Regions from separate parts of the Homo sapiens genome. Here regions 1, 3 and 4 are each linked to region 2. The links come from fine-mapping of genetic effects on gene expression. A gene starts in region 2. Each other region holds a variant in brackets. All regions are shown on one strand. Distances are between the middles of the regions.

The links. PIP is the estimated chance that this variant, and not a neighbour inherited with it, causes the effect.
Region 1: its variant is the best candidate, but not a certain one, in a credible set for the expression of SMOC2 in substantia nigra (GTEx, PIP 0.67).
Region 3: its variant is the best candidate, but not a certain one, in a credible set for the expression of SMOC2 in aorta (GTEx, PIP 0.82).
Region 4: its variant is the best candidate, but not a certain one, in a credible set for the expression of SMOC2 in putamen (GTEx, PIP 0.82).

The regions. Positions count from the first base shown.
Region 1 is chr6:168,604,043-168,611,659 of GRCh38, forward strand. SMOC2 (SPARC related modular calcium binding 2) reads left to right here. Exons shown (of 13, transcript NM_001166412.2): 9 at 4,115-4,197. Among named protein-coding and RNA genes, the nearest start is that of SMOC2, 170 kb to the left of the region's middle. RefSeq lists an enhancer at 2,546-3,082. The variant T/C (reference allele first, on the strand shown) is at 4,913.
Region 2 is chr6:168,437,286-168,444,902 of GRCh38, forward strand. It overlaps SMOC2 (SPARC related modular calcium binding 2), which reads left to right and starts at 3,899. Exons shown (of 13, transcript NM_001166412.2): 1 at 3,899-4,169. The coding sequence starts at 4,086.
Region 3 is chr6:168,648,032-168,655,648 of GRCh38, forward strand. It overlaps SMOC2 (SPARC related modular calcium binding 2), which reads left to right. Exons shown (of 13, transcript NM_001166412.2): 10 at 2,650-2,752; 11 at 4,923-5,197. Among named protein-coding and RNA genes, the nearest start is that of SMOC2, 210 kb to the left of the region's middle. The variant T/C (reference allele first, on the strand shown) is at 4,338.
Region 4 is chr6:168,612,711-168,620,327 of GRCh38, forward strand. All of the region lies in intron 9 of SMOC2 (SPARC related modular calcium binding 2), which reads left to right. Among named protein-coding and RNA genes, the nearest start is that of SMOC2, 180 kb to the left of the region's middle. RefSeq lists an enhancer at 245-414 and a cis regulatory region at 330. The variant A/T (reference allele first, on the strand shown) is at 3,225.

The DNA of each region.
Region 1 (7,617 bases), 170 kb after region 2:
TTGAGGCTGTCATCTGGCAATGTTGCCGAGGACATTCCCTCTCCCAAAGCCGCCCTGACACCCTCATTCTGTTTTCTTGGCCATTAGGCAGGTTCCCCTCTTGGTCACAGGATGGCTGCAACAGATCCGGACATCTCATCCAGATGCCACAGTGCTCAGAGGACACAGGAGCCCATCTCTTTGTTTCTTTGGAGCCAAAAATCCCTTCCCTAGAATTCTGCTAGCAAATTTAATTCATGGATCATTGGTCAGAATTAGATCATATGTCCATGGCTAAACCCACTGCTGGCAAGAAAAATTGAGTTGGTTTACACTGGTTTGAATTGATCACCTAGGGAGACATGGGTACTGGGCACCAGGCAAAATAATCAATATTAGGCAGTATCTGATAAGCCACAGCCAGCTTCACCATTCCTCATCTCCCAGTGATTCTGCCATTATTGAGTAACCAGGTCGCATTTCTATTTAAATGCCCTCTGTTCCCTCAGCGCAATTTTCTTATTAATTTTCTGAAATAAGCAGCCCCAGGGAGATACTTCATAGTTTTGATTTATACCTGGGTTGGCAATTAAGATGTTTGTTTTCTTTAATCATCCTCTAAATTTCCTGATGGGGAAGAAACATTTAATAATCCAGTAACAGTAAGAAGCTATAAACATAAATTGCATCGTCTTTGATATGTGACCTCTCTTATCCTCATGTCACCATGCATGAGAATTAAAAGGCGTTAGTTTTGTGGCAGACTCATCCCAAGGACCACAAGTACATGCCACTCTGCCCAGATGAGGCAGGAGCAGCTTGCTCTGGTGCAGTTTCTAGTTGGACCCATCACTTAGAAGGAGATATGAGGAGGGGCAGAGGCTTCAGCCCTTCCTAGTGCCCCTGACTTTTGTGTCAAAATTGGCATCTTCGTCATTGTTTGCAGATCCCGGAAGGAGGGGTCCAGGCACCTGTCATGAGTGCAGGCCCCCATGAATGGTAGAGTCCAGGTGGGAGCCGAGGGGCAAGTTTCCCCTCAGCCACTAACAGTAGTGAGGAGAGAATGGGAAGGGGCCATCAGACTGAGCTGAGTCAGGCTGATGGCCAGATTCTGCATTCATGCCCAGAACAGAGAGGCTGATGAAGCCTTTGTCTGTCTGCCATCCAACTGCTGGCTGTTCCTACCTCACATCTGGGCAGCCTCTGTTCCTGGACCCCAGAGCATGTCTCTCAATGAGGTGTGTAGCCTCTGTTCCCCAACCCCAGAGCGTGTCTTTCAGTGGGGTGTGCAGGGGATCATGTGGGCATAGGACTGCATTTCTCCCTGGCAGAGAACCTGGTATCTGATGGGCAATGAGAGAAGAGACGTTTGTGTTTTTCCTTATACAAATAAGTTAAAATAAACCTATTGAAAAGAATGGTGATGGATGACAAAGCTGAAATTAACGGACTTATTTCTCCTCTTTCTCCTCTCTTGAGATTGTCAATTCTGCAAGTCATGGGCATTTCACACTACTCATTAAAACAAGCAGAATACTGTCATGTAAATATATATTTTTATATTAGCATCAGTGATAGGATTTGCAACATACCTCTATCCCAAATGTGGAACAAAACCGAAATGCCCGTCCAGGTGGCTGGCTTCCTGATTGCTTCGAAGCTAGGAGATTTGGAATGAGGGTAAGAAATGATCTAGTCTCGTGCCACCCATGTGAAGGATACAGGTACTGATCCTGAAGGGCTTCAGGGGCACAACAGAGTTCATGTTAACACTTCCTTTTTCTAACACTACAGAGCAGTCCAGGGCTCTAAGGAGGTGTGCCCTCTGATACTCGGAGAAGCAAGATGGCCCCTAAGGGCTGGAACTCTATCCTCAGAGTCTACGTCATCCATTCTGAGCTGGGACATTCGCCTGGCTTTTGGCAGCTCCCCCTTCATAAGCCCTCGGGCAGGAAGGGTCCATTCTAATGTAGGTCTCAATTCGGCCCCTGAGACACTGACCCGGAGCTTGAAGTGAAGATCGTTCAGCCCTCAGAGTGCCCTAGTTCTACAAATTTAACACGCATAAGTAAAAATAAGAGCTTCCTAATCCCTCAGGAAGCCAGCTTCCTGTACACATCATCTCTGGGTGAATGTTTTACTTCTCACCTGCTGGCCGCAGCAGCAGCTGCATTAGGAGACACCTGGCTGGGTAACAGGTCCTTTACTGAGTTCGCCTTTCTTGTGACCTCTTGGAGCTGACCCCCACCCCCACATTTTCAAAGAATATGAGTTAATGGCTTTCAGTTAGAATGTGATAGCTTAACTGTTTGCCAGAGTGTGTCAGAGACTTTAATTTCAAAAACAATATTTCAAAAAGATATATTAAGTTTGTCTGACTGGGGTGGCAGGTTTTCTGGTATCAAAGAGGCTATTGAGGGCCAAGGGTGGCAGGAATGTGTGGTTCCTGACTCTTATGACAGCTGGATGGGGTCCTCTCACTGGGACTGCTGGACTCTCTGGGGCCTCTGTTAGAACACTTTAAATATGTCCCTTTAGAGAGAAATTTCATTTTATTTTCTATGGCTGAAAAGCATGTAAGCAATGAAAAAAATAGAACCTAAAGTGATCTCTGTGAAGTAAATAGGATCTTGTAGCCCTTTCTTTAAGAATGAAAAAAGAAAATAGGGCAGAGGGAGAGGATGAGAACTGGCGGAACGCTGGCCTCCTGACAACCTCAGGGCTCCGGGCCGGACCCCCTCCCGCTGGCCTCCTGCTTGTCTTCTTCATTTTCCAAGGAGTCTTTCTGGAGCCCCAAGACTGCACCTGTGCCCCATGATGGTGTTGGCGGGCACTGCGTCTCCCAGTGTGTCACTTGCCAGGGCCTGAGGAGGCCGCCACGAAGGATTCCACGTGCCTGACACTCATGGATGGGAGGGGCAGGGGGCTGGGGAGCCGCCATGCAGCATGAGGTCAGCTGAGTGGAGGGGAAGCGAGGAAAGTTGGTGTGGGCTGTCTGGGGTCCTGCGAGTCCACAGAAAGGGGCGGTGGGTGTGCTGACCCAGGAATCTCCCATCTCCCGGGAACGCACCTCCCCGGCGTCTCCTTCATGCTGGTGAGAAGCCCCACTTCTTGGTGAAAGCCACAGTGAAGGATTTCTGTGTGCGGAAGATTGTCCTCCTTGGGGGTGGGGGCTCCGGGAGGCAGGTTCTCATGGTGGCCCGCACTCTGTTTAAATGTCCACCTCCTCTACTGGATGAGGCTGGTGGTCTGCGTGGCAGGGGTCTCCTCCTTGCCCTACACCCAGGACAAGGATAAAACCCAGGCAAAGCAGGCCTTGGTCAAGGGCTGCTGAATGGCATGCATATGGCAGTGTTTATGAGCTGTTTACCGGATTTGAATCTGACACCCTTAGGGACAGGCACCCTGGTTCCCACTGCCAATTCAGTAGTACCACAGAGCCACTTGCTCCCATGAGCTCTGCAACCGCAGCAGCCAGGGCACCTGCCCTCTTGGATGTCAGCCCTGTCTGTTCAGGACTTAACCTGCAGTTTGTCATTGATGCTAAGTGGGACCAGAGAGTCGTTTTTTTTTTTTTAACACTGAGGCAGACTTTCGTAGCTTCACGAGGTGGATTGGAAATGAGTTGGCCTTTGGTGCTACAGGAATCTAAATCCTGAAGTCCTTTGCATCCTTTCCTTGGGCGGGGTGGGGGTAGTGGTCACACCCTCTGTCCTCGTGCACACACTCCTGCTCTGACGAAACAACCCAAGTGCTTCCTCCATCCAACCCTGCAACGGGAGGAGGGGGAGGTGTGGGCGCTGCTCCATCCAACCCTGCAACGGGAGGAGGGGGAGGTGTGGGTGCTTGGCAGCTGCTAGATGAGATTCATTTCAGAGACGGGATGGAGAGACGGCCCTGCTGTGTGATTGAAGTCACAGTGTGCTTCTTCCTACTGACTGCAAGCAATAGCTTTCTATGCCAAATATCCACAAAGGTGACAGAAAGGAGTGAGGAGGTCATGGGTGTCATAGCATCAGAGCCACAGGTCACGGTGTATGCTAGGGTAGGACACTCCAGAAATGGAAGACAAACCACAGCTGGTCTCAAGCCCGTTGTTTTCTCTCTCCTTCCCCCGCCTTCCCCCCGCCCATAGGTACGAGCAGCCGAAATGTGACAACACGGCCAGGGCCCACCCAGCCAAAGCCCGGGACCTGTACAAGGGCCGCCAGCTACAAGGTGAGCAGCACCCGCGAGTGTGGCCCGAATCCACAGGCCCCACCATGCAGTTTCTTGCAAATTTGGAATGAAAAAGACTTTATCTGACTCTGTTTCCCAGGGGGCCTGTCTGACTCTGAGGCCTCCTACCTCCTTGCAGAGGGCCCTGAGTCCAGGCAGGGAGACAGGGGGCCAGGAGCCCACACGGGGAGCACCTGGGGGGCTTCCTCCCTGCTGCTGTGTATGGAAGGTCAGACATGGAAGAGAAAGAAAGGGCCCCTCACAAATCAGATCAGCACACAGCACCCTAACCTCTCTAGATGCTCCTGAACCCCACAGCCCAAAGAACCCTTTATTCATTCTACCTACATTTCACTGTCACTTTCTGACATTCCTTTTTCACTGAATCAACAGTTCATGAAGCTAAAGTTTAGGTTTTAAGAAAACATGAGTTGAATGTATGTATTGAGTTTAATTACAAAGAAATATTGTAATTAAACAGAGGTGAATTAAAATTTATAATAATTGAAAAATGCAGTCACAAAAAGACGTCATGGGGTGAATTTGATATATCATTAAGAAGCTTCAAAGCTACTTGCCATTTGTTTCATTTTGATCTTTTTTTCTCTAAATATCTCCAGATTGTGTATGTTTAACCAACATCTCAGAGACATGAAAATCACACTACAGCGTACTTTGTTTAGAGTACGTGCTTGATCTTGTCTCATACAGAAAC[T/C]GGATGAATTCCGGATGAGTAAACTTTTGTGCTTCCTGTACTATTTGTACTGTCATTGGTAGAAAGGTTTTAAATTGTAAAAAGTAAAGATGTTCGGCTTATAAATGAGGACAGGGTAGAGCAGAATGTCCACAGTCTATACATGTTTCATTGCTACGTGTTCATAGCGATTCCACAACATGAGTAACGAGAATGGTTGACACAGGGAAGCAGAGGGCGGAATGTGGTTCCGGGGACACACAGCACAGTTATTCTGCCAGCTCTTGGTAAACACCGTGCAGCTCACTGGGCTGGCTTGTTAGGAACTGTCTTTGTCTTAGTTCTTCATGGTTTCCCAGCCGTGTACCTCCTCAGTGTCTTCCTTGTGAGGCAGGTTTGAGGAATCTGTTGGTTCTAGTAATTTTTTTTTAATGAGAGTATGGTCCTTGTGTGAGCAATCAACTTGCTTTCTGTTGAATGAATCAGCTTCTTTCTGGATCTCGCAGGTGAGGGTGGGGGAAGAGATCACGATGGTGCAAACACACCCGTCCCTGTGCATGCCTAGTGAAGGGTGTTTTGCCTTTGACCCCGTGTCTGCAGGCTGTGCTCAGCTGCTGGCTGAATTCCATCCCCCTGATGGCCCTGTCAGGAGGGAGTTCTCCTCCTCCATTATCTGGTGTCATCTCTTGTCTCTGAAGTCCGATTTTAATATTGGTGGGCAAGATGTTTCCTTAAAAGACATAATGAGCTTCTCACATGCTTGCTGCATGGAAAGCCCTCAATAAATGTTTCCTGGTTTTGGTTGGTCTTGACCTTGTCACGTGCACTTCAATCTGTCTTTTGCCCCTAGTGTACTTCTTGAAGAGTCCAAGATTCTTAACTTATTTTTTTTTTCGATAGCACAAAGTTGCATCACTTCTAAGCCAAGCTGCACTGTGGTCTTCACACAGGTGATACGAGTGCAATTTATGGAAGTCAGTTTCGCTTCTCATTGGTAAAAGGGACCGTGACAGAGGCTGGCTTCTGCTGCCTCTCAGGAGTGCACGTGGCAGGAAGACCTTTTCCTGGTGGAATCTAATCTGTTACACTCTAGACCCAGACTATTGATTTAAAGATGACACAGTCATTTGTCCAGTGAGAACAACTGGTCCTTGATATTGAGAAACATGATGTCATTGTCTTCTCTGAGTGTCAGAGGTGCCATTTGGAGATACAGCATCCCACACTGTGAGGATGGGCACGTCAGAAACCATGCTCCTCTCTGCTAAAACAGGAGGAGAAGGATGGTTAGATGCTCACAATGAAGACGGCGTTTCCTTGCCCACACCTCAGACGAAAACCAGATTGCTGAGGCATCAAAGCCACGTGACGCAAACTGTGCAAAGGTCAGCTTGTGCTGTTGCCATAGATGTTTGGGAGTGCACTGTTCATGACCACTTAATTATTTTGATTATTTGGAGATAATTATCCTTATTAGGAAAAAACAAGTAGGTCTTAAAATAGCTGCAGGATAGAGGCTGTTCCTGGTAGAGAGGAGAAACCTATTTCCAAAATAACACAGCAGCCTTTGAGTAGGAAGATCCTTCAGGTCCCATGCAGGCTGATGTATTTTATTCTTAAAAGGTACCGTTTCCTTTTGAAGTTGCTTTTCTAAGGTTTTGCCAATGTAGGTCCTCTATTTTCCATGTAAAGCTGATAATATTTTCACACAAAATTCACTTGTTTGGGGTGAGCAGTTGATTTGTCACCAAATACTTATTCACATCTTATGTAGGACAGTTAGCAGGTGTTTGGCAGCAAACGATCATTGAGTCTTTGGAGGCCATCATTTTATTATATGGCACAAGAGATCTAGGTCTGGCTTAAGGGGCTACATAGTGACGACTGGGTCACCGTTTTGGCTTTTGAAGGTTCTTCTTTCATTGTGTAGGTTTCCTCCTGGGACTATCACATCCTGTGTAGCAGAAATTCTAAAAAGAGGCACAAAACCACACCTTCTTAAACCACACCTTCCTAAACCAGATCTTCTTAAACCAGCCCTTCCTAAACCACACCTTCTTCTTGGACAGGTTCACCTCACTTTATTTTGCCCTGGCATCTCTGATCACACTCTGGTTGGTGTTTTAAATAACAGGGTTACTCTGTCTCTCCAGCCTCCCCAGCCCCCTGACATCCTCCCAGGTCCTCATGTGAGGCTGGAGAACCAGGCACTTGCATTGAGCTGTGGCTCCTGTGTCGGGGCCGTGGTGTGTCTGTTGGGCCCTATGTGGCTCCCGTGTCGGGCCTGGCTGTGGCTCCCATGTCTGGCCCTGCTCTGGTTCCCATGTCCGGGACCCACCGTGGCTCCCGTGTCGGGCCTGGCTGTGGCTCCCATGTCTGGCCCTGCTCTGGTTCCCATGTCCGGGACCCACCGTGGCTCCCGTGTCGGGCCTGGCCGTGGCTCCCATGTCTGGCCCTGCTCTGGTTCTCATGTCCGGGACCCACCGTGGCTCCCGTGTCGGGCCTGGCCGTGGCTCCCATGTCTGGCCCTGCACTGGTTCTCATGTCCGGGACCCACCGTGGCTCCCGTGTCGGGCCTGGCCGTGGCTCCCATGTCTGGCCCTGCTCTGGTTCCCATGTCCGGGACCCACTGTGGCTCCCGTGTCGGGCCTGGCCGTGGCTCCCATGTCTGGCCCTGCTCTGGTTCCCATGTCCGGGACCCACCGTGGCTCCCGTGTCGGGCCTGG
Region 2 (7,617 bases):
CTGATAAAACTGCTTATTGGGTGCTATGCTCACTCTCTGCGTCTTTCATACCCCAAACCTCAGAGTCACACAATATGTCCATGTCACAAACCTGCACGTGTGCCCCCGAGTCTAAAATAAAAGCTGAAATTATTTTTTAAAAATTTGCCACAAAGTGCCTGAAAAGTATTATCATAAAAATTGTCCTCAGGCATCTTAAGAAGGAAGAAGAGGCCGGGCGCGGTGGCTCACGCCTGTAATCTCAGCACTTTGGGAGGCCGAGGTGGGCGGATCACGAGGTCAGGAGATGGAGACCATCCTGGCTAACACAGTGAAACCCCGTCTCTACTAAAAATACAAAAAATTAGCTGGGCGTGGTGGTGGGCGCCTGTAGTCCCAGCTACTCGGGAGGCTGAGGCAGGAGAATGGTGTGAACCCGGGAGGGAGAGCTTGCAGTGAGCCGAGATTGCACCACTGCACTCCAGCCTGGGCAACAGAGCAAGACTCCATCTCAAAAAAAAAAAAAAAAAAGAAGAAACTTGTTTAATTATTTTGTTGAGCACAAAGTCCAAATTCTCTGTTACTTAAATATATCAAAATAGGAAGAAAGCCATTGAGTCAGGCCCAAGGATCAAACACACAACTCCACTGTCCACTTTTCAACGTGGTGTGTCAACGCTGGCCTCATCCTGCAGCCGCGGTGACGGTGAGCCTCGGCGGTGCTCTGTTCTGATTTTGTCAACTCTGCCGATGTGGTTTCCTTTCTATATGGCTCACAGGTTTGTGAAGCTGCAGAACTTGGGCTAAAAACCTGGGATTGATGTGGGGATCCTGCATCATTTTTCCGTAGGTTGAAGGGAACAAGTTAAAAGGAAGATGCAAGTCATCAGAATGAACAAGCCAACAAGAGGACAGAGACTCCAGAAACCTGGGGAACTACAGATTCTCGGGTCCAGCCTGGGGGTAGTCTAAAAGGAAAATCACACAGAACTTACCTAAGAAAGTCCAGGTGAACGGTGAAAACTCCTGCTCCCATGATTAAGTAGAAACTAGGAGAAAACATTAATAAGTGACTGGCAGGTGACTGATGATGTGGGGTGATTCTCAGAGTATGAACAGTGACCTGAGTTCAGTCCCAGATGATACTCAGAGTGATGGCAGAGGGGATTTCTGGAAGTCACTGCATCAACAAAGAGATATTTGACTAAACTTATGCTTGGCATATTGAGATGGGAAAATAGCTGACAAAAAGTTTTCTGGCTAAACATGAATTAGCCAGAAATAATAACTAAATTATATCATTTCTATAATGAAAATAAAATCCTTTTGCAGTTTTAGCATAGTAAAATAAATAAAAAGGAAGCCAATACTCATGATAAAGCATTTTGCTAATGGCCTAAGAGGGAAAGTTAGTTTAGAAATGTGAAAACAGCTGGAGTCTTTGGTAATTAGTTTCTCTTGCTGTTCTTTATTGTAACTTTCATCAGTGACAGGCATTTAAATTCTGAATGCATAAGCCACATTTTAGAATGGGCCCTGCATCACTTTTTAATTAAAAAAAAAAACAAAAAAACCTACATTTCCAAGAGAGGGGAACTTCTTCCTGCATCCTAGAGGAACTCTCTGGAAAGTATAGAGCTGATCACTTCCTGTCTTAACTTTGAACTGAGTGAATTACTTTTCTATCCTTTCTAACATGACAGCTCTCTGGCATTCCTGCCAGTAATAACTTTCTTGGAGACTTACAAATAAAAGACAGACATAACTCTTTCCCAGTGTTTTAAATAAATGTATTGTTTTTCTCCATAAAAATGGAACCTGATTATCTCTCCAAACTCCATTTCTAGAATTTTGAGAAACTAAAATTTGGCATTCAGGACACATGAGCTCCTCCAGATTTGAAAGGGGTTTCAAAGGCTCCAAACCTGCCTCATCTGTCAGAGTTTTGGACAAATGCATTTCATTTATCTTCCTAGAGTTCCCAGAGGATTCTGGAGTTGCTACATGAAAGACGTGTTGGGATTCTTGAATACAAGGCACGGAGGGCCAAGGATTTTCTTCTGTTCTCCATATTGCCAGAGGAAGTGACATGGATTTGCCAGTATTGCAGGTTTTAACATCTGCATTCTGTTTATGATTTTGTTGCTTAGGAGATCTGGCTAAGACATTTGGCCCCTTTGACTTTTGTTCCTCATCTGTAGAATGGGAATAATTAAGTCTGCTTCTTGTCTGCCATTCTTGCAGCGGACGATGGTGGATAAATGAACATGCTTTCAAACTTTTGAGTTCTGACGAGCAGTACTCTCAACAAAGTGGAAAGTGAAAAACAGGTTCTTTAGTAGCAAATACTTCTTAAAGGAAGTATGTCAGCTTCGAGTGTAAATTTTATTCTTTGGATAATCTTAGAATTAGTGGTATGTAGTGTTTATTTTCTTTTTACTTTAATTTTCACTGCAGTTCCCTAACAGTGATTCCTATTTACTTAATCATTTGCAGCTGCTCTGCTCACCTGTTTTTCTGGACCCAGGAGCAGTCCCTCAAGAGTTTTATTATAATTTCCTTCTAAGTCCTTAAACCAGGAGGAATGTGTTTAAGTGCTTAATAGATTCCCTGGGCTTTGGAATTTTAAGGAGAATTCTGAGAGTAGCCCTCCTTCAGGAAAAGGTGCATTTCTTTCCCGTCTTTCCGTGGCCCGACGGACATCACTTTCCTGATAAAATTGTGTGGGAAAGGTTGCAATAGCATTGCCTTTGCCTCAGCAGCCAGTCCCAGAACTTGCTGATACAGCCCCCTCCCCCAAAGTTCATAGCCAAAGCAGTGGGCTAGACATCGGATGAAACCTCAGATTTGGATTTTCTGTGTTTTGTGCTTTTCCCAATGCCCCTGACAAGTCAATTGATTCATTGTTCTTGAACAAATCTTCACTCTTCTGGCTTTCTGTGTGAGACAGAATTAGGGCTTTTTCCTGTAAAGTTATAAGCCAAGGCTAAACTATGTCAGCAATGTTGTCTGCAGTGGATATTATCCAGAGTCTGGGTGTGCAAAAATTTCCTGGTTTCCAACGTAGTCTTCGTGGGTGAGTTTACAACCTCCACAAGCCCTGTGCTCCCCGCACAAACACCTGAAATGCTTTGACAGAGCTGTTTAAAAACAGCCACATGTGTCTGTGAATGATGCCCAACCACATGCTCCCCCGACTTGAGAGGATCAAGGCTACAGCCCAGGTCAGACCCCGGATCTTTAGGACCTAAATTCCCCCATCCCTGCAGTGGATAACCCCGTGTAAAGATGCCAAAGGCGGGCTGCCCCCGGCGCAGCCTTTCCTGGACATGTGTTCCCAGCTGCCTTTGCTGGAGCGCCGCTGATCCTTCAGCACCTCTGAGAGGCAATGTTCTGGGCTGGACCAGGGGGCCTTAGAGGGCAGAGGTCAAGGAGAACCCCGGAGTCTGGGGACCGGCCAAGGCTTGGCGTTAACCTTTGTGGATGAAAAGTCCCGCTGGGCTGATCCTGCGCGGACCGGGCCTGGACCCTGGGGCGTGAGGAGGGCGCGGTGCGTCCCGTGGTTGTGCTTGGAAGCCCCCCGAGGGTGCGCGCGCGTGGGTATGAGTGCGTGCGTGTGCCTGGGTGTGCGTGTGTGTAAGTGTGCACGTGTGTGTGTGAGAGTGCGCGCGGGGAAGGAGGCACAGAGACAGCCCGGACAGGCCACTGCGCAGCCCTGGTGGCCCCCGCTCCACCTCTCGCTCCGCAGACCCGCGCCAGGGAGGCCTCTGGGCCGCAGCGGGCACCGGAGCGGAGCGGGCGCGGCAGCGGGCGCTGGGAGGTGGGGCTGGGGGAGGAGAGGGGGAGGGAGAGAGGCGGGCGGGAGGGGAGGATCCGGGAAGCTCCGGGGTATTTGACAGGAGCGAGGGCGGACGCAAAGAACGCGGAGGACCTCTGGGTGCCTGCAGGGGAGCTGCTCCAGCCGGGCCGCCGGGAGCGGTGGGGAGAGCATCGCGGAGCCGCCCCTCCACGCGCCCGCCCAGCCGCGCTCGCCCACTGGGCTCTCCCGGCTGCAGTGCCAGGGCGCAGGACGCGGCCGATCTCCCGCTCCCGCCACCTCCGCCACCATGCTGCTCCCCCAGCTCTGCTGGCTGCCGCTGCTCGCTGGGCTGCTCCCGCCGGTGCCCGCTCAGAAGTTCTCGGCGCTCACGGTAAGCCCGGGCCCGCGGGACCTGGAGCTCAAGTGGTGCCGCCTCTTGCAGCCGGCCGGGTTCGGGTCCCCGCGCCCCGCTCCAGGCCCAGGCGCCTGGGCACGGGGAGCAGGTGGCCCCGGGGGCCGTGGAGCCTTCGCCTGCCGGCGAGGCTGGAGCAGGTAGGACGCAGCGTGCGCGCCTGGGACCCGGCTGGGATGGGCTTCTGGGGACCCTGCCCGCCGGGGTCCTGCTGCGGCTGCGACGGGCTCCTCGGGTTCCACCCGGCTGGGACCCCACCTGCCTCGGGGGCTCTGACCCGGCTGTGAGAGGATCCTGGGGTCCTGCAGACCCCGGACAAGTGGGAGCTGCGGGTGCGCTCGGGTGTCCCGCACTCACTGCTGGGCCTGAGCCTGTGGGGAACCAGGTCTGGGAGCGCCGGCGCCGCCCCGCGGACTGTCCCAAGGCCAAGACAGACCCGCCGGGACTGGGCGCCCACCTCGCCCACGGGGACCCGGCCTGGAGCGTGTTCTCCCGACCGCTTTGGGCTCGTGCGCCGCGCGGATCCCGGGCCTCTCGCCGGCTGAAGGGGCTGCCAGTCGTGGGCCCCACTCGTGGGTCTGACTCTCCCAGAGACCCTCGTAAGTGAGCCGAGGAAGAAGCAGATGAGGTTACAGATGATTCTTCACGGGCCTGAGTGTTATTAGAGAAGCGCTTTCTTCCCTTCTCAGGACAGAACTGGAGGCAGGCGGCGGCTCCCCGCTCTGCGGGGCCTCTGGGTTCTTCCTCGTGGCAGGGATGCTGCGCTCCTGAGCGCGAGGGTCACCGCGGTTGACCGCTGTGTGTTTTTCTTTCTGAGCTGTAACTTCTATGCGACAGCCTTGGCCCGGCCAACGCACGCGGTGTCAAACGAGGAGCTATGTAGAGGGGGCTGAGCCAAGCCCCCGCCGGCCAAGCCAACCCGCGGCGGCCGCTGGGCCAAGGCCGGGTGTCTGCAGCCCCCAGCTCCAGCCGTCCTCCTGGGCTTGCAGGGTTTGCAAACCCATCATTAATGCAATCGCCAGAAACGAAAACATTCCACTTAAATGTGTTTTTGAACAAGTGTTTGAGAAAACACGAAGGTAGTGAGAACGCCTCTGGTGGACAGCCGTCTTTTTTAAGTGGCCGGGGACTTGTCCTAAAGGTGTTTATTGTATTGAAAATAAAGATGGTTGAAATAAGCTGTGGTCGGTTCTGCCTTTCAGCAAATTTAAAACAGTCATGTGGGCATCTTTTCTTTTTCTTTTTCTTTTTCTTCGTCTTCTTTCTTTTGCGTTTTAGCAGTGTGAAGGATGGTTTGTGAGTTCATTGCTCATACCTCAAATTCTTCTGCAGCAGCCCGGGGTCCCTGCCTTGTGTCTCACAAATGACTTGTAGATTAGAAACTGCTAACTGGGGCTCCAAGGAGGTTTTCACACACTCAGGCTTTCCCTGAAGATCCTTTATCTCCCCAGAGGGGGCCCTCAGAGGATACTCACTGGAGGCATTCATGTATATGCACATCTGTACATGCATCTAGACATAAATATACTCACGTATACACTCACAAAAAGACCCCCCACATACTCTTAAAGCACACTAGAGGAGACAGAGAAACTAAGGCCAATTCTCCAAAGGAGATCATAGCATTTTCTTCCAGGACTGTAGCAGCAGGTACCTACAGTTGCCACGGATTTTCAGATTTTCTGAAAGCGCAAAAAGTAGAGACTGCCATCTGCCTGCTGCCCTGTGTGTGTGGGGGGTGGGGTTGGGCCTGTTGGTCCCCCCTGGAAGAGCAGAATCAAGGTAGTTAGTAATTAGAACAGTTTAAGACTCGGCAGGTTTTCTTGTCTTCTCTCCCCTGTCTCATCTAACTATTTACTTGAACCCTCTCACCTTTTGCCCCCTTGAGGTTGCCCCAAGGATGTCTTGGGTTGCGGTGAGACCCGCTGCATGTGGGGTCTCTGTGCAGGAGCTGATACCCCACGTGGGCTTTGCCCTGTTGGCTGCATTCCCCAAGAACAGTTTGCCTGAAATTTACATTTGCAAATAAAATCAGTATCCCGAAGAAAAGATTAAAGCCATAACACATTTTGGCACACTTCTTCTCACCCCACCCCCAGTCTAGAAAATCAAGAAGTAGTTGAGTTACAAAGTAACTGAGGCAGGCCTGAAATCTGACTGGTCGCTGGGAGATGTGAGATGTGCAGGATTTTTCAGTGTGCTCATCTCTTTTCAAATTGCCTTCTGGTTTTTGGAAATCTCTTTTGTCTCCGGAGGCCCTCATTCAAAGAAGGGCCTTCTCTCCCTACGATTTGCATCCTACCTACTTTAATAAATCAAGAGGCAGTATCAGTCCATGCAGTGGGTGGGACCCACAGCTTAGGGTCTTGCTGGATGTGTGACTTCAGGCAAGTTACTTAATTTCATAATCTTCAGTCCCCTTATCTGTAAAATGAGAATACATAATCTCTTTCAAGCATGTGGTGAGGATTAAAGGTAGGGCTTTTAATGCGCCTACTATATGTGAGTTCTCCAGCTAACATTGTTTTGATGGTGCCCATGCCGTGGGTCCGTATAAGAGAGTGCTATCAATTGATACCGTAATTATCAATGCATATAGCGTTGTGGCATTAAGGTGTGTGTGGATTCAACTTTGCAGTATTTTCACCTGCCGCAGATTCTCAGAGCACACCACTTGGCTCTGGGTGTATCTGTGGACTTTGTGGGAGTAGCCATGTGGGACTCTATAGACCAAGGAGGAAAGCTTGCCTCTCTGCCTCCTTCTACTCCATTCATTTCTTCTCATCTAGAAGCAGGGAAATATGTCAGCCTCTCTGGGGCTTTCAGTTTGCCATACCTGGCTTCTCAGGACCACGCATTTGTCTTACTCACCTATGGTGAGTGTGCTTTCTTGGTGGGTCCAGCATTGCTGGTGTGCTCACCTCTGCTACTTTATGTTTAAGATTCAGAGAATCCACTTTGTCTGGTAATGATCTCTCTTCTTTCCACCAAAGTCATTCTTTAGAAATGGCACCATGAGGCCCTCTGTGTCTCTCATTGTGACTTTCTGATGGCTTTGCACAACTTCCTGGTTATTGCTCAGACCCTCTCACCTCCAGTCAACAATGGCATTCTTAAGTGTGTCCAATGCGCTCTTAATTTGGATGCAGGTCAATTTCTTCCTTGAAGAAGGAGGTACATTGAATGCCACACCGTGCCCATTTTCCTTTTTATTTCTGTGAATGACTGAGATGAGGGAATGATCTCTAGTATAAATGGTTTTTATTACACATAATTCTGTTTTCAAAGAGCAAACAGGCGTGATCACAATTACTCAACTTTATCATGGTTGTCATTATATGAATTTTGATGGACTGATCCATAAGCCCATACCTAGGTGATTTCTTTAAAGGCAGAGAGAAGAACAATATTGCCTGGGACCCCTTTC
Region 3 (7,617 bases), 210 kb after region 2:
TTTATCTCATTTGGGGGAATATGATTAAATTAACAGCCAAAAAAAATCCCCCTGGGTGTGTCCCTATTACCACACCAAATATCCACATAATTCTTTCTTAAAGCTGTTCAGTACTGAGGATTATCTAAAACGCCTTTTCTCCCAGATAATAATATTCTTCTCCATCAAATCCATATTCCTCTCAGAATCTCTGGAGGCCAGTGGAGGACTGGAAATTCATAGAGAGCAGCCCTGGCAGGCAGGTGCCCGAGGTCCTGTGGGTCCCAGCCTCACCTGCCCCGGCGCCTGTCTCGTCGCCCTGGACAAGTTCTCCTGGACGGCTGGCCTGGCAGGGCTTCTGCCCACGTGTTCCCGAGCCTGTGCCCTGGAGGCATTTTCAGCCCTCCAAGTTGTTTTTCTCATTTCCCTTCCTGGTTAGTCCTGCAGCTGGGGAGCTCAGCCTTCTGTAGACCGGGAGGCCCCTCCCAGGGAGCCGAGGCCGGGTGGGCTGGGCAGCTTTGGAAGCACCGCGGCCAGCAGCCTCTGCAGCCTCAGGTCCTCTGCCTTTCTGAGGGGATGTTCGATGAGACTGTTACTTCTTTCTTGGAAAGTAGCATTTGCCCCGTGGCCGTGATGCTTTTTGCTATAGATTTTGATCTCCTTTTTCAGTTGTGTGCAAAGAGACTAACACAGACCTTTTTGCACTCTCAGAACCCCCCTGGTGAAGGCTGCACATCTGTTTTCTGACATGTGTGTTTAATGAAGTGGAAGCCAGCATGACTGTGGAGTCTTGCTATCGGCAGCTCACGTGTGCTTCAAGAGCAATCACACAAAACTCCAGTGTCAAAAAGAAACCTAGGAAAACCAGGGCGTCCCTAACTGCATAAACAGGCTGGTCTCCGAACGACTTGGCTGCTGTCCACACCACGGCCACATGGTCCACGCCAACGTGCCCTTGACCCAGGGGTGGTCCACGCCAACGTGCCCTCGACCCAGGGGTCTGAGAATCACGTGTGGCACTGCCTTTCCCCACGGCACCCTCAGCCTGTCCTGTTGCCTGAGGAGTCCAGAGAGAGCCCTCCTCATCTCAGACAATCCTTCCTCTGAGGGCCACGGGGAAGGCGGGGAAGGGGCCGTCCTCAGTCCCACTCGGCTTTCTGCCTGGGCTCTGCAGCTCTCCGCGTCCTCCACTTACTGAGTGGGCTCCTGAGATTCCCTTTGGCGGGGCCGTCTAAAACTTTTCTTAGTAAAAAATGGAATCTAAATTGGGCAGAAGGTGTGTGGTGTAAACTCCCTTCCTGCTGTGGTGAGGACGGTCCGAGCAGATGTTCTAATGCCCGAGGTGCTCTCCAGGCTCAGAAGTCTCCGTGGGTGTCCCTAGCCCCAGCAGAGCCCCAGGGAGAGGCAGCCTCCCCAGCAGGGAGTCTGAGAGTGCAGCGTGGCTCAGTGGGGACGCTGTCCCTCCAGGGCTGGTGCCTGGCTTCTGTCTTCTATTTTCCCCTCGGTATCTTTCTCTTTCTACTGAACTCTGGAAGGGCTTTCTTTATAAAAATTTAACAAAATGTAAATGGTAACAAGCTCCGTTTGTCACCTCTCCCCTGGATATTTACACACAAATAGACCCAGTTGGAATCGGCAAATTTTGCTCCCTGCTTGTGAAGCTCTTAAACCCGCCGATCTCATCGGGGAAACGAGGGTGGGGCTCCTACCTCTTGCATTTGCTTATTGATCCAGCAAGCATGTATTGGGCAGCTGAGCTGCTTCTCTATGCCAAAAGGGCATCCAGAGAGAGGAGACCTATGTTGTCCATTGTCCATGCCACCCTGGGCATAAGGACACGGGATGCTGCCTGTGTCCAGCTACTGGGGCAGTAGCACCGGGAACGGTCTCAGGAGAAAAGACCCCAGAGAAAGTGGATGGCTTCTTTCAAATGTTATCTTGAATTTGGGGTGGGACGAGTGTCTCAGGCATGGTGTCAGGGAATTCCTAACCGGTGGGAGAGGAGAGTGGTGTTGAGGGAAGGATGGAGGGGAAAGTCACGCTGCAGAATGTTGGGTGCCTGAATTATTCCCTGACCCCAGAATCCATACACAGTCCGCGCTGGGCTCCAAAGCTATGAGCACTAAACCCTGCTGTGGACTGTTCGTGCCAATGCCGTGGTGTGGACAAGTCCCCAGGAGACGGGCGTTGGGGAGCTCCTGCTGTTTGCCCTACTGCCTCCTTTTGCTCTGAGAAGCGAGGTGGCTCTGGACAGGGTGGGGGTGGCGGTGAATCACAGGCCCTGGCCTCGATTGCTGGGATGGCCAGCCTCATGTGCTCTCAGCGTGCACTCCGTATGTCCCGTGTCCCTAAGCACCCGGTGCCTCTGCTGCCACACTCGCTGGATGAGTGACACTGCCCACCTCCGATTGCAGTTCTGAAGATCAGTGAGATACTAATGCCTGTGAATTTTAGTCTCACGTAATAATTCAAACAATAGAGGAATTAATAATAGCTATGGCTCAAAATCAATATATATAATGCAATGTGTTTGTGTTTAAACTAGCTCATTAAGATTAAGGTAGGCCAAAATACTCATTTCCAAACAGTAAAACAACATTTCCCTGTATTTTAGAGGAAAATCTGTTAGGCTTTATGAGTTAATTATGAAAACATACACGTGTTTTTCAGGTTGTCCGGGTGCCAAAAAGCATGAGTTTCTGACCAGCGTTCTGGACGCGCTGTCCACGGACATGGTCCACGCCGCCTCCGACCCCTCCTCCTCGTCAGGCAGGTACGCTGTGTTCGCCGTGGGACAACAAGTTGGCAGGGTCCCAGAATTCTGGGGAATCTGGAAAGTCTGAACATTACATATTGGCAACCTTCTCAGCTTATTTGGACACAGTAGGGCCTTAAAAAGGAGCCTTCTGCAAACACAGGAAGTTGCTTAGCAGGTTTTCTTGTAGCAAGACTAAATCACTGAAAACACTCCCATAGGGGTACATGGCCCTGAGCCGTGACTCCTGGGCCTCTGCGGGGTAGTGGGCTCTGACCCTGGCCCTTTTGGTGCGGAGCAGGGCAGGGGGAGCACTTCCTGCAGAGGGCTTTGTGCTTTGAAATTGCACTTTAGAGTCATCGATTGGATTGTAAATACTTTGAATGACAACGTTTAATCTGAAGTTCTCAAAACGTGATTAGGTTTACTGCAGTAAAATGTACAGCACATACATTTGCTGTCCTAACCACTTTCAGGCATGTGATTCAGTTACATCAAAGACATTCACACTGTTCAAAATAGGATTTTTGGAACCCTGGAGATGTTCCTTGAGTACCTGGTAGGCATTCCCGCACTCCTGGACCTGGGGCCTGGAGCTCGGTGGAGTGGCTTTCGGTGAATTCTCCAACACTCCTCTTTTCCACCCTCTGTAGATCAGCCTCAGGAGAGCAGAAGAACCCCAGGGTTTTACTGCGATGGCATCTCAAGCATCAGATATTCCCCCTGATCTAGCCATAGTTTATCTGTTTCTTTCAAATAAAGTTTTGATGGAGATTTCATCTTTTTTCTTTCTTTAGAATGTTGGCCTTTCTCCCCATAGCCCCTGACACCCAAACCCTTGATTATCTCAGCCACTTTAGGTGATTTTTTTGGTCTCCTGAACTAAAAGCCTCTCCTCTCACTGTCTGTCTGCTAAAGAAGACTTAAGGAAATAAAAAGGCAATACTAACAGAAAATGTCATGAATGTGTAGGAAATTAAATTTAATAGAGCAGGCCGGGCGCAGGGGCTCACGCCTGTAATCCCAACACTTTGGCAGGCCAAGGCAGGTGGATCACCTGAGGTCAGGAGTTCGAGACCAGCCTGGCCAACGTGGTGAAAACCCATCCCTACTAAAAATACAAAACTTAATCCAGCATGGTGGCAGGCACCTGTAATCCCAGCTACTCGGGAGGCTAAGGCAGGAGAATCACTTGAACCTGGGAGGCGGAGATTGCAGTGAGCCAAGACCACACCATTGCACTTCAGCCAGGACAACAAGAGCAAAACTCTGTCTCAAAAAAAAAAAAAAAAAATTTTAATAGAGTCAAACTGTATGTAAATTTCAACTTTACATCTTCTATTCTTGGAAAGATTGTTTTCGCAAACTAAGCTAAACTGCAAACTAAAAATGAAGGCAGTAAATGAATTGCTAACTAAACTAAATTGCAAACTAAACTAAATGCAAACTAAAATTGATGGCAGTAAATGGATTGTTATCTGAAAATCCTCCGAAAGGTTGAGAAATTGGCAATGGTGTCGGAGTTCACGGTGTTCTCATACCTGGGAATGTACAGCTCATCCCAACAGGCAGAATCCAGGGGCCAGCACCTCCAGGAGGGCCA[T/C]CCCATGCGCACACACACACCCTCCATCTCACGGAGAAGGTGCGTGTCTGCCATTTGGTGCACTTTTAAAGATCCGCACCTTCTAGAAGAGTTTATTTATGTATGCCCTAAAATATTGAACCTAACATAATCCAAGGAAAAATATCTAGTCCCAACTTAAAATGTTTTTGATTTGCATCATCTGATATTCCTATGACATGAAGGATGTGTAAAAGAATCACATTTACAGGGCTAGAAAAGCTCAGGGTTCTGGTGTGTCGGGCGGGTATAGCTGCATGTGCTGACCTGCCAGTCCTGTGCACACAGAAGCCAGGATAAGGGGGCTTTTGTCCTTCAAGTGCATCTTTGCTGGGCACAAATTCACTGCATCATTTACAATTTTGAATCCAACCTGAAAAATCTTTGCTAAAAATGTTCTTCTAAATTATTTCTTTAAATTGTTATATCTGATGACCAGTGCTGCAGGCTGAGACACCAGGACCATGAGAACTACAAGCAGGGGTTATGGGTTTGAGGGAAGGACAGTGGCCAGGAAGGAGCAGCCCAGGGGTTTAAGCATCCTGACGGCATCTGTGTTCCTTCCAGGCTCTCAGAACCCGACCCCAGCCATACCCTAGAGGAGCGGGTGGTGCACTGGTACTTCAAACTACTGGATAAAAACTCCAGTGGAGACATCGGCAAAAAGGAAATCAAACCCTTCAAGAGGTTCCTTCGCAAAAAATCAAAGCCCAAAAAATGTGTGAAGAAGTTTGTTGAATACTGTGACGTGAATAATGACAAATCCATCTCCGTACAAGAACTGATGGGCTGCCTGGGCGTGGCGAAAGAGGACGGCAAAGCGGACACCAAGAAACGCCACAGTAAGAGCTTTCCCACCCCCGACCCTGGGCAGTGGTCAGGCCCTGAGGCCTGGGAGGTCTGCTTCTCACAAACACAATTACAGATTGTGTTTATGGCCTGGGAGTGCAAAAAATCAAATATGCTGTTTAATTGTTGGGCGTCTGTTTGCAGAAATAATAATGATAATTGGCGACTCATCACATGCCACTTGCCCAGGAGAGCCCAGGCTCAAAGGGCATGAACTGCGTGTTGGTTTGCAATGAGCCTTTTTACTGTTCAGACCACGGTTGGCTTCCCCCAGAATGGATTGTCTTCTGGTATTTGAGGTGCAAACCTGGGAACCACTGGAATAACCAACCCTGCACCTGAGCTCCAACCAAATGTTAGGAACTCACCAACCCTGCTCCTGAGCTCCAACCAAATGTTAGGAACTCACCAACCCTCTACCTGAGCTCCAACCAAATGTTAGGAACTCACCAACCCTCTACCTGAGCTCCAACCAAATGTTAGGAACTCACCACCCCTGTACCTGAGCTCCAACCAAATGTTAGGAACTCACCAACCCTGTACCTGAGCTCCAACCAGATGTTAGGAACTCACCACCCCTGTACCTGAGCTCCAACCAGATGTTAGGAACTCACCAACCCTGCACCTGAGCTCCAACCAGATGTTAGGAACTCACCAACCCTGCACCTGAGCTCCAACCAGATGTTAGGAACTCACCAACCCTGCACCTGAGCTCCAACCAGATGTTAGGAACTCACCAACCCTGCACCTGAGCTCCAACCAGATGTTAGGAACTCACCAACCCTGCACCTGAGCTCCAACCAGATGTTAGGAACTCACCAACCCTGCTCCTGAGCTCCAACCAAATGTTAGGAACTCACCAACCCTGTACCTGAGCTCCAACCAAATGTTAGGAACTCACCAACCCTGTACCTGAGCTCCAACCAGATGTTAGGAACTCACCAACCCTGCACCTGAGCTCCAACCAGATGTTAGGAACTCACCAACCCTGCACCTGAGCTCCAACCAGATGTTAGGAACTCACCAACCCTGCTCCTGAGCTCCAACCAAATGTTAGGAACTCACCAACCCTCTACCTGAGCTCCAACCAAATGTTAGGAACTCACCAACCCTCTACCTGAGCTCCAACCAAATGTTAGGAACTCACCAACCCTCTACCTGAGCTCCAACCAAATGTTAGGAACTCACCACCCCTGTACCTGAGCTCCAACCAAATGTTAGGAACTCACCACCCCTGTACCTGAGCTCCAACCAAATGTTAGGAACTCACCACCCCTGTACCTGAGCTCCAACCAGATGTTAGGAACTCACCAACCCTGCACCTGAGCTCCAACCAGATGTTAGGAACTCACCAACCCTGCACCTGAGCTCCAACCAGATGTTAGGAACTCACCAACCCTGCACCTGAGCTCCAACCAGATGTTAGGAACTCACCAACCCTGCACCTGAGCTCCAACCAGATGTTAGGAACTCACCAACCCTGCACCTGAGCTCCAACCAGATGTTAGGAACTCACCAACCCTGCACCTGAGCTCCAACCAGATGTTAGGAACTCACCAACCCTGCACCTGAGCTCCAACCAGATGTTAGGAACTCACCAACCCTGCACCTGAGCTCCAACCAGATGTTAGGAACTCACCAACCCTGCACCTGAGCTCCAACCAGATGTTAGGAACTCACCAACCCTGCACCTGAGCTCCAACCAGATGTTAGGAACTCACCAACCCTGCACCTGAGCTCCAACCAGATGTTAGGAACTCACCAACCCTGCACCTGAGCTCCAACCAGATGTTAGGAACTCACCAACCCTGCACCTGAGCTCCAACCAGATGTTAGGAACTCACCAACCCTGCACCTGAGCTCCAACCAGATGTTAGGAACTCACCAACCCTGCACCTGAGCTCCAACCAGATGTTAGGAACTCACCAACCCTGCACCTGAGCTCCAACCAGATGTTAGGAACTCACCAACCCTGCACCTGAGCTCCAACCAGATGTTAGGAACTCACCAACCCTGCACCTGAGCTCCAACTAAACGTTAGGCCAGTTCACAAGCCGTAAAATCATTGCTGTGGCCCAGACCAGTTATTCCAATGGTTATAGCAGTTTTAACAATTGAAAATACTTTTTTTTGTGGGCCTGGCCTACCCAACCGTGACAGGAAGTAAGAGAAACCTGTGATGGCCAGAGCCCAGATGTTCTTAGGAGGCAAGCCAGGAGAAGCCGGGTCTGACTTTTCAGCTCAGAGACAGCACTGTGAGATGCGTGCATGCCCTGATCCCACTGCACATGCGTGCTAGATACTCCTGCATGTGTGTGCTGGATCCTACTGCATGTGTGTACTAGATACCCGGCACATGTGTGCCAGATCCCCCTGCACATGTGTGCTGGATCCCCTCACACGTGTGTGCTAG
Region 4 (7,617 bases), 180 kb after region 2:
GCTCCATTTGTGATTCAGGCTCGTAGGCCCTCGGCGCGGCAATGCAAGAGGCCATCGGCACAACCTTGTCAGAGAGGAGATGCAGGCGAAAGACAGAGGTGCAGGGAGATGCACCTGTCCAGAGCAGAGCAGGCCCAGTCGCCGGCAGGTTCAGGGCAGGAGCATCGGCCAAGGAGAGTTGGCTCGAAAACTTACAATGGAGACTTTGATCTAAAGTGAAGTCAAAATAAGTGATTTCATGGCCTAGAGTGCAGGGTTTCCTCTCACCTTTCCTGATCATGCAATTGTGTCTTTCACTCTCGGATACGGTTTTCCGGCTGACTCTCATTCTCAGGACCAATCGTATTCGAATGAGCAGACTGGCTTTCCTCTGGGCGTTGCTTCATTTCAGTCTACACTGGCAGGGAACGCTCACATTTTCGTCATTGTGACGATCTGCGCTGCGTGCAGTCTGATCTCACTCTCAGGCACTGTGGTCCAGGCCACCCCAAAGGCAGCACAGGAGCTGGGCCCTGGGGGTCAGGAAGGTGCAGGGGAAGTCTGACGTATCCTGTGAGCCATTCCTTCCTCCACCAGCTCAGGTGAAAACAGCACTGTCTTTCTGTGGGTGTCCTGATGTTGGTGGTTCAGCAGTGGCACCAGTGTGAGGACAGAGGGGGCGGCATGAGGAGCCCCTTGGGGAGCCTGGGCATGGCCCCTCTGTTACTGCCCTGTACCCCAAGCCAGGGTCCTCTCCTGGATCCCCAGAGCTCTTCCGCCTGGCACACAGTCTAAGAAATGGTCTTTATTTTGGTCAAACAGCCTCTCACCCAAGTGTTTCTGGAAGCTCTATGGACCCAGCAGACTTCATGAATGGTCAAGGCCTCTCCCTAAAGGGCATGGCACAGTGCCTCTTCACATCTACAGCCAGCACAGGGGGCCTCTTCACACCTACAGCCAGCACATGGAGCCTCTTCACACCTACAGCCAGCACAGGGCCTCTTCACACCTACAGCCAGCACAGGGCCTCTTCACACCTACAGCCAGCACAGGGGGCCTCTTCACACCTACAGCCAGCACAGGGCCTCTTCACACCTACAGCCAGCACAGGGCCTCTTCTCCTAGAGCCAGCACAGGACCTCTTCACACCTACAGCCAGCACAGGGGGCCTCTTCACACCTACAGCCAGCACAGGACCTCTTCACACCTACAGCCAGCACAGGGGGCCTCTTCACACCTACAGCCAGCACAGGGCCTCTTCACACCTACAGCCAGCACAGGGGGCCTCTTCACACCTACAGCCAGCACAGGGCCTCTTCACACCTACAGCCAGCACAGGGGGCCTCTTCACACCTACAGCCAGCAGGGGGCCTCTTCACACCTACAGCCAGCACAGGGCCTCTTCATACCTACAGCCAGCACATGGAGCCTCTTCACACCTACAGCCAGCACAGGGGGCCTCTTCACACCTACAGCCAGCACAGGGGGCCTCTTCACACCTACAGCCAGCACAGAGCCTCTTCACACCTACAGCCAGCACATGGAGCCTCTTCACACCTACAGCCAGCACAGGGCCTCTTTATACCTACAGCCAGCACAGGGCCTCTTCACACCTACAGCCAGCACAGGGCCTCTTCATACCTACAGCCAGCACAGGACCTCTTCATACCTACAGCCAGCACAGGGCCTCTTCATACCTACAGCCAGCACAGGGCCTCTTTATACCTACAGCCAGCACAGGGCCTCTTCACACCTACAGCCAGCACATGGAGCCTCTTCACACCTACAGCCAGCACAGGGCCTCTTCACACCTACAGCCAGCACAGGGCCTCTTCACACCTACAGCCAGCACAGGGCCTCTTCATACCTACAGCCAGCACAGGGGGCCTCTTCACACCTACAGCCAGCACAGGGGGCCTCTTCACACCTACAGCCAGCACAGGGCCTCTTCACACCTACAGCCAGCACAGGGCCTCTTCACACCTACAGCCAGCACAGGGCCTCTTCACACCTACAGCCAGCACATGGAGCCTCTTCACACCTACAGCCAGCACAGGGCCTCTTCACACCTACAGCCAGCACAGGGCCTCTTCACACCTACAGCCAGCACAGGGCCTCTTCATACCTACAGCCAGCACAGGGCCTCTTCACACCTACAGCCAGCACAGGGCCTCTTCACACCTACAGCCAGCACAGGGGACCTCTTCACACCTACAGCCAGCACAGGGGGCCTCTTCACACCTACAGCCAGCACAGTACCTCTTCACACCTACAGCCAGCACAGGGCCTCTTCACACCTACAGCCAGCACAGGGCCTCTTCATACCTACAGCCAGCACAGGGCCTCTTCACATCTACAGCCAGCACAGGGCCTCTTCATACTTACAGCCGGCACAGGGCCTCTTCACACCTACAGCCAGCACAGGGGGCCTCTTTACATCTACAGCCAGCACAGGGGGCCTCTTCACACCTACAGCCAGCACAGGGCCTCTTCACACCTACAGCCAGCACAGGGCCTCTTTATACCTACAGCCAGCACGGGGCCTCTTCACACCTACAGCCAGCACGGGGCCTTTTCACACCTACAGCCAGCATGGGGCCTCTTCACACCTACAGCCAGCACGGGGCCTCTTCACACCTACAGCCAGCACAGGGCCTCTTCACACCTACAGCCAGCACAGGGGGCCTCTTCACACCTACAGCCAGCACAGGGCCTCTTCACACCTACAGCCAGCACAGGGGGCCTCTTCACACCTACAGCCAGCACAGGGCCTCTTCACACCTACAGCCAGCACACGGCCTCTTCACACCTACAGCCAGCACAGGGTCTCTTCATCTTCATACTTACAGCCGGCACAGGGCCTCTTTACATCTACAGCCAGCACAGGGCCTCTTCATACCTACAGCCAGCACAGGGGGCCTCTTCACACCTACAGCCAGCACAGGGCCTCTTCATACCTACAGCCAGCACAGGGGGCCTCTTCACACCTACAGCCAGCACAGGGCCTCTTCACACCTACAGCCAGCACAGGGGGCCTCTTCATACCTACAGCCAGCACAGGGTCTCTTCACATCTACAGCCAGGAGCATCTTTTTTCTTGGGGCCCCAAGCAATTGCTGGCATAATTATCGTCTTTGACTCATGTAGAAACCTTAGAGGCAACACCTGGATTTTTCAGACACGATTTTAGCACTATTCTAATTTTTTGAAGATTAGTTATGGTTTTCTGAGAGAGCATAAAATGA[A/T]CCTTACCTTGCCCTAAGTGGAGCTTAGGACATTTTCCAAAAGGTAGTTAGATCAGGAGCAACACATTCCTGCCAGGTATCATGTGACATGTAAGGACCTCGGTGTTTACCTTTTCTACAAAGCAGACAGGAGCCGGCCAGGACCTCGCTTGGTGGCCTTTGAGAGCCTCACAAAGGTGACACGAGGTGTCAATATTCTGCCCACTAAAAATGTCTACTTCTGTGATCCCTGCTGTCATATCAAAGACTGAATTTACAGACACGAGTCTTCTAAATTTTAGCTGAGCTGGGAACAAAGCTTCAGGCTTTAGAAACATACTACTGTAATTCTGGGGATGTGAGTAGTTAGGTGAGCTATCTGCACTCTGTGTCCATACAGGCTCACGCCAGAACCAGCTGCTCAGGGCACAGGCTCAGACTCTCCATGACCCATGAGGCTGGGACAAGGACTGGGTGTTGAGGAGGCTGGGATGCGAGGCTGTCTGTGAGAGAGGATTTTTAACCTGGCATTCTGCTTTTGAGAGCTGTCTGGTGGCATGATACCTAAAGAACATCAACTCAGCCTCATGGGTAGGGCTGGGGAGTCCCAGATATGGCAAGAGACCGTTCCACATGGCACCACTTGGAAGAGAGAGCTGAATCTACATTATTTTATTTTTTGACCACTAAGTTGGATGTCTAAATATGAAATTTGCCCATGAATAAGATTAGTAACACTTTTGAAGGAAATTGCAGTTTTTAGGAAGCGTAACAGTGAAATGGACCATTAAATCAGTTTTATTGAGAAAAGACTGCTGCAAATAAAAACTCAGAAAAACCACACATATAATTGCCATCCCAGAGGCATCATAAGACAGGAAGAGCAGGGACAAGGGGTGCCGAGGAGTCAAGCGGTTGGGAAAAGGTGGTTTTCAAGAACCGGTGTCTGTGGAGCATCCCGAGATGCCGCTGCACTGCGGGGGGGTTGCAGGGAGCTCCTCCAGCAGCTGAGGGAGCCCACGCAGGTGCAGGGACACAGGTGAAGTGAGCGTTTCACTCAGCGCTTGCCTTTTCTCCTGGGAAAGAAAGTGGACAGGATGCACCCTGCAGAGGGCACCGGAGAGATGAGAACTAAGAAGGAGCGATATGGCTACTCTTGCAGCAAGGCCAGCAGAATTCTCAGTGGGATTTTATTACAATATTTCTTTTGGCTGATATTTTGTCTTCATGTTTGAGAGTAAGGAGACATTGGAGGTTTGGGGGAATGTGGGAATTCATCATTCTCAAAAAAACAAGAACAGGAATAGAGAAATTAAATAAACAAAGGCGTTTTATTTTCCTCAACATGTAGAGGAAAGACTAACAAATGTCTAATTATGTACAGGAGGGTGCTGGGCGCTTTTTCTGTTTATTAATTGATACTTCAACAGCTGAGTGTGAATAACTGAGCAGGGTGGCTGTTTCTCACCGACGTGGCTGAGCAGGAGCTTTTCTCACACCCAAGGACGGGTCTCCCAGGGGCCCAGGGCACTGCATTCGTGGACTCTGAAGACGGGGCAGGAAGCTGGAGCTATAGTTTCTCCCATGACCTTTCAAGCAAAAGTTTAGGACTCTGATGGGCCAGGGGCACTCCACTCTTGTCCCGCACTCACATCCGCTTGGACAAGTCCTGTCTCTGCTCCAAGCTCTCTTGCATCTCGCTGGCTGCCCCACTGCTTCCTCCAGGCGAGTTTCCAAATAGACTGTAAGTAGATTCTGATCCCCATCCATGCAGCAAGAAGAGGTGTCTGGAAACCCCAGATCTGGCCTGTATTGCTTCCCATCATCAGGGTCTCCTGGCTCCAGATTAAATGTGAACTGCTTGTTGTGACCGATGGGGCCCCTCCTGGCCTTACCCCAGTGCATTTTCTGTTTTCTTCTCTCCGCCATGCATGGGACTGTATCTCGCCTGATTGCATGGCCTACTTGGAGAGGCGGGGGTCGCGTCCAGCGCCTCGCTGAGGGGCCATGCCTCCAGCACACAGGACACAGGTCATTTCCCTGAGAGGCATGCTGACATGGATTGCCAGGTTTATGGGGTCTGCCAGGGATAAAATAATCTGAGATTTTTAACCCACCCATTTATTTCCCATCCAAGAAAACGGATCTGTCCTATGGCGTGTTATTAGCCGCAAGGCTGCCTGCATGGGAGTGGCCTGGACCATCGCCCCAGGGCCCAGTGCTCCAACAGGACCCTCGGTTTATTGCTGTGCTATCACCACGATGAAATAATTAATTTTTAAACGCGAGGCCTCCGTGCTCCATTTTGCACTGAGCCCTACAAACAAGCCGATCATGATTAGTAACAACACACAGCTTGCAATTCACTGGGCATCCAATGGCAAAGAGCCAGCGTAGTGGCATTAAGAGGCGAGTCAAGGAGAGGCAGGTAGTGGCATTAAGAGGAGAGTGGAGGAGAGGCAGGTAGTGGCATTAAGAGGAGAGTGGAGGAAAGGCGGGTAGTGGCATTAGGAGAGTGGAGGAGAGGCGGGTAGTGGCATTAGGAGAGTGGAGGAGAGGCGGGTAGTGGCATTAGGAGAGTGGAGGAGAGGCGGGTAGTGGCATTAAAAGGAGAGTCGAGGAGAGGTGGGTAGTGGCATTAAAACGAGGGTCGAGAGGTGGGTAGTGGCATTAAGAGGAGAGTTGAGGAGAGGCAGGTAGTGGCATTAAGAGGCGAGTCAAGGAGAGGTGGTAAAAGAGTTAAGACAAGGCCAGGGAATGACGATGGAAGGGCTAGGAATGTCCCGCATGGGGTGAGCACAGATGCAGACAGGAAGACGGTGCGCTCAGGACATCAGTAGCCCAGCTTAGGCGATGGGGAAGGTGACATCGTCTCCTGCAGGGACTATGGGCTCTCGACGCAGCAGGCACACGGGCATCCGGTCTGGGAGAGACAGCGATGGCAGGAAAGCTGGAGTGCCCTTCAGTCACTACTCCACAGACTCCACTAAACTGGGAACCAATTTCTGAAATTATGGGCTGCATTTTATTTGTTTATTCAATATAATAAGACAATAAATATCTTAATCTTAAAATACCCAGGAATTTGCTAGAATATCAGAGAACCAAGTGTTAGATGACCTATGACCTGACACAAAATGACCCTCAGCACGGATCGGAGAACTTGAGTTCTGAGCAGCGCCGGTGACCGCAACAGCACATTGTTGAGTTATTTTAGAAGCAATGTGGCTTGTTTTTGTTTATGGTTTCCTTTAGAGCCAGATTTTTAAAGATAAAGTGCCATTTAAAAAATTCCCAAAGACAGCAGGGAGCATTCTGAACGACAACAGGACAGTCAGCTCTGGCCAGTTTAGCCTGCGTTACTTTGAAAGTTATGATTATGCAGAAGAGAGATGGAATAAAGTTTAGATTTACGTTCATCATGAAAAAGGCATCTGCCAGACAAATTAATAGTGTAAGCAATATTTCAGAGACAATTTAAATAACTTGAGAACAAACTGGTCTCCAACACTATCAAATATATTAAATTAATTTCTAAACAATTGTTATTCTATTGCAAATAATTCCTAACTCTATTAAAGCAGTTTATCCTAAATGATTAACTACTTTAAAAGCCTTCCAAGTACGGTATACACTTAAAAATAACAAGTATGCTTTTAACTGGCCTACAGTGGTTAGTTTAGACTTCCCTCCTATCTTTTCTGAATTGATTGAGGCTCTACCATAATCAAATTAAAACCTCCTATAACGCAAGTCTCACTTACTTCCCGTTTGCCGCTGACTCAGGCAGGAAACCACCGTGGTACTCCTGAAAGCGCCCTTCTTTCTCAGAGGCTGTGCACTTCAGGTGAGACCACAGTGAGGCCAGTCCGGACAGAGGGGACTCTGCCTGGAGTCGGAAGGTCTCCACAGCCAGCTGTCCCTTGTGTAGCCAGTGCCTGCCATGGTTAGAAAGCCCACAGCTTCAGTTTACACGCTCTGTGTCTTGTGGCCCTTTTACTCTACGTACCAGTCATGGTCACTGTGCTCCGGCAGGCCGTTGTCCAGCTCGCTCTCAAGGTTCCGGACACACGGGCTCTGTGCTCCCTGAGGTTGGCAGTCACTGCCTTCAGGTCTTCAGATCCCCTGCACCAGGTTGCTCAGGCATGAAACACACAGCCCTACCTGCGTGTAATATTTGCCTGTGGTCTCTCCCCTCCACCAAACCAAGCAATTCAGATGCCTTGAGCGTTCTTTAGCTATCGGTATTTCATCTCTTCACTGAATCATGTTTATTGTTTTCACTTGGAAGCGCTTATCTTCCTGATTCCCCTATGTCTTTAAACCCAACGCTGGCAGAATACTAAGACTGCATGGTGCCTTCTCTGCTTTACCTTCTCATGAGAATTACAAATCCCTTTGTTTTCTAATTTTG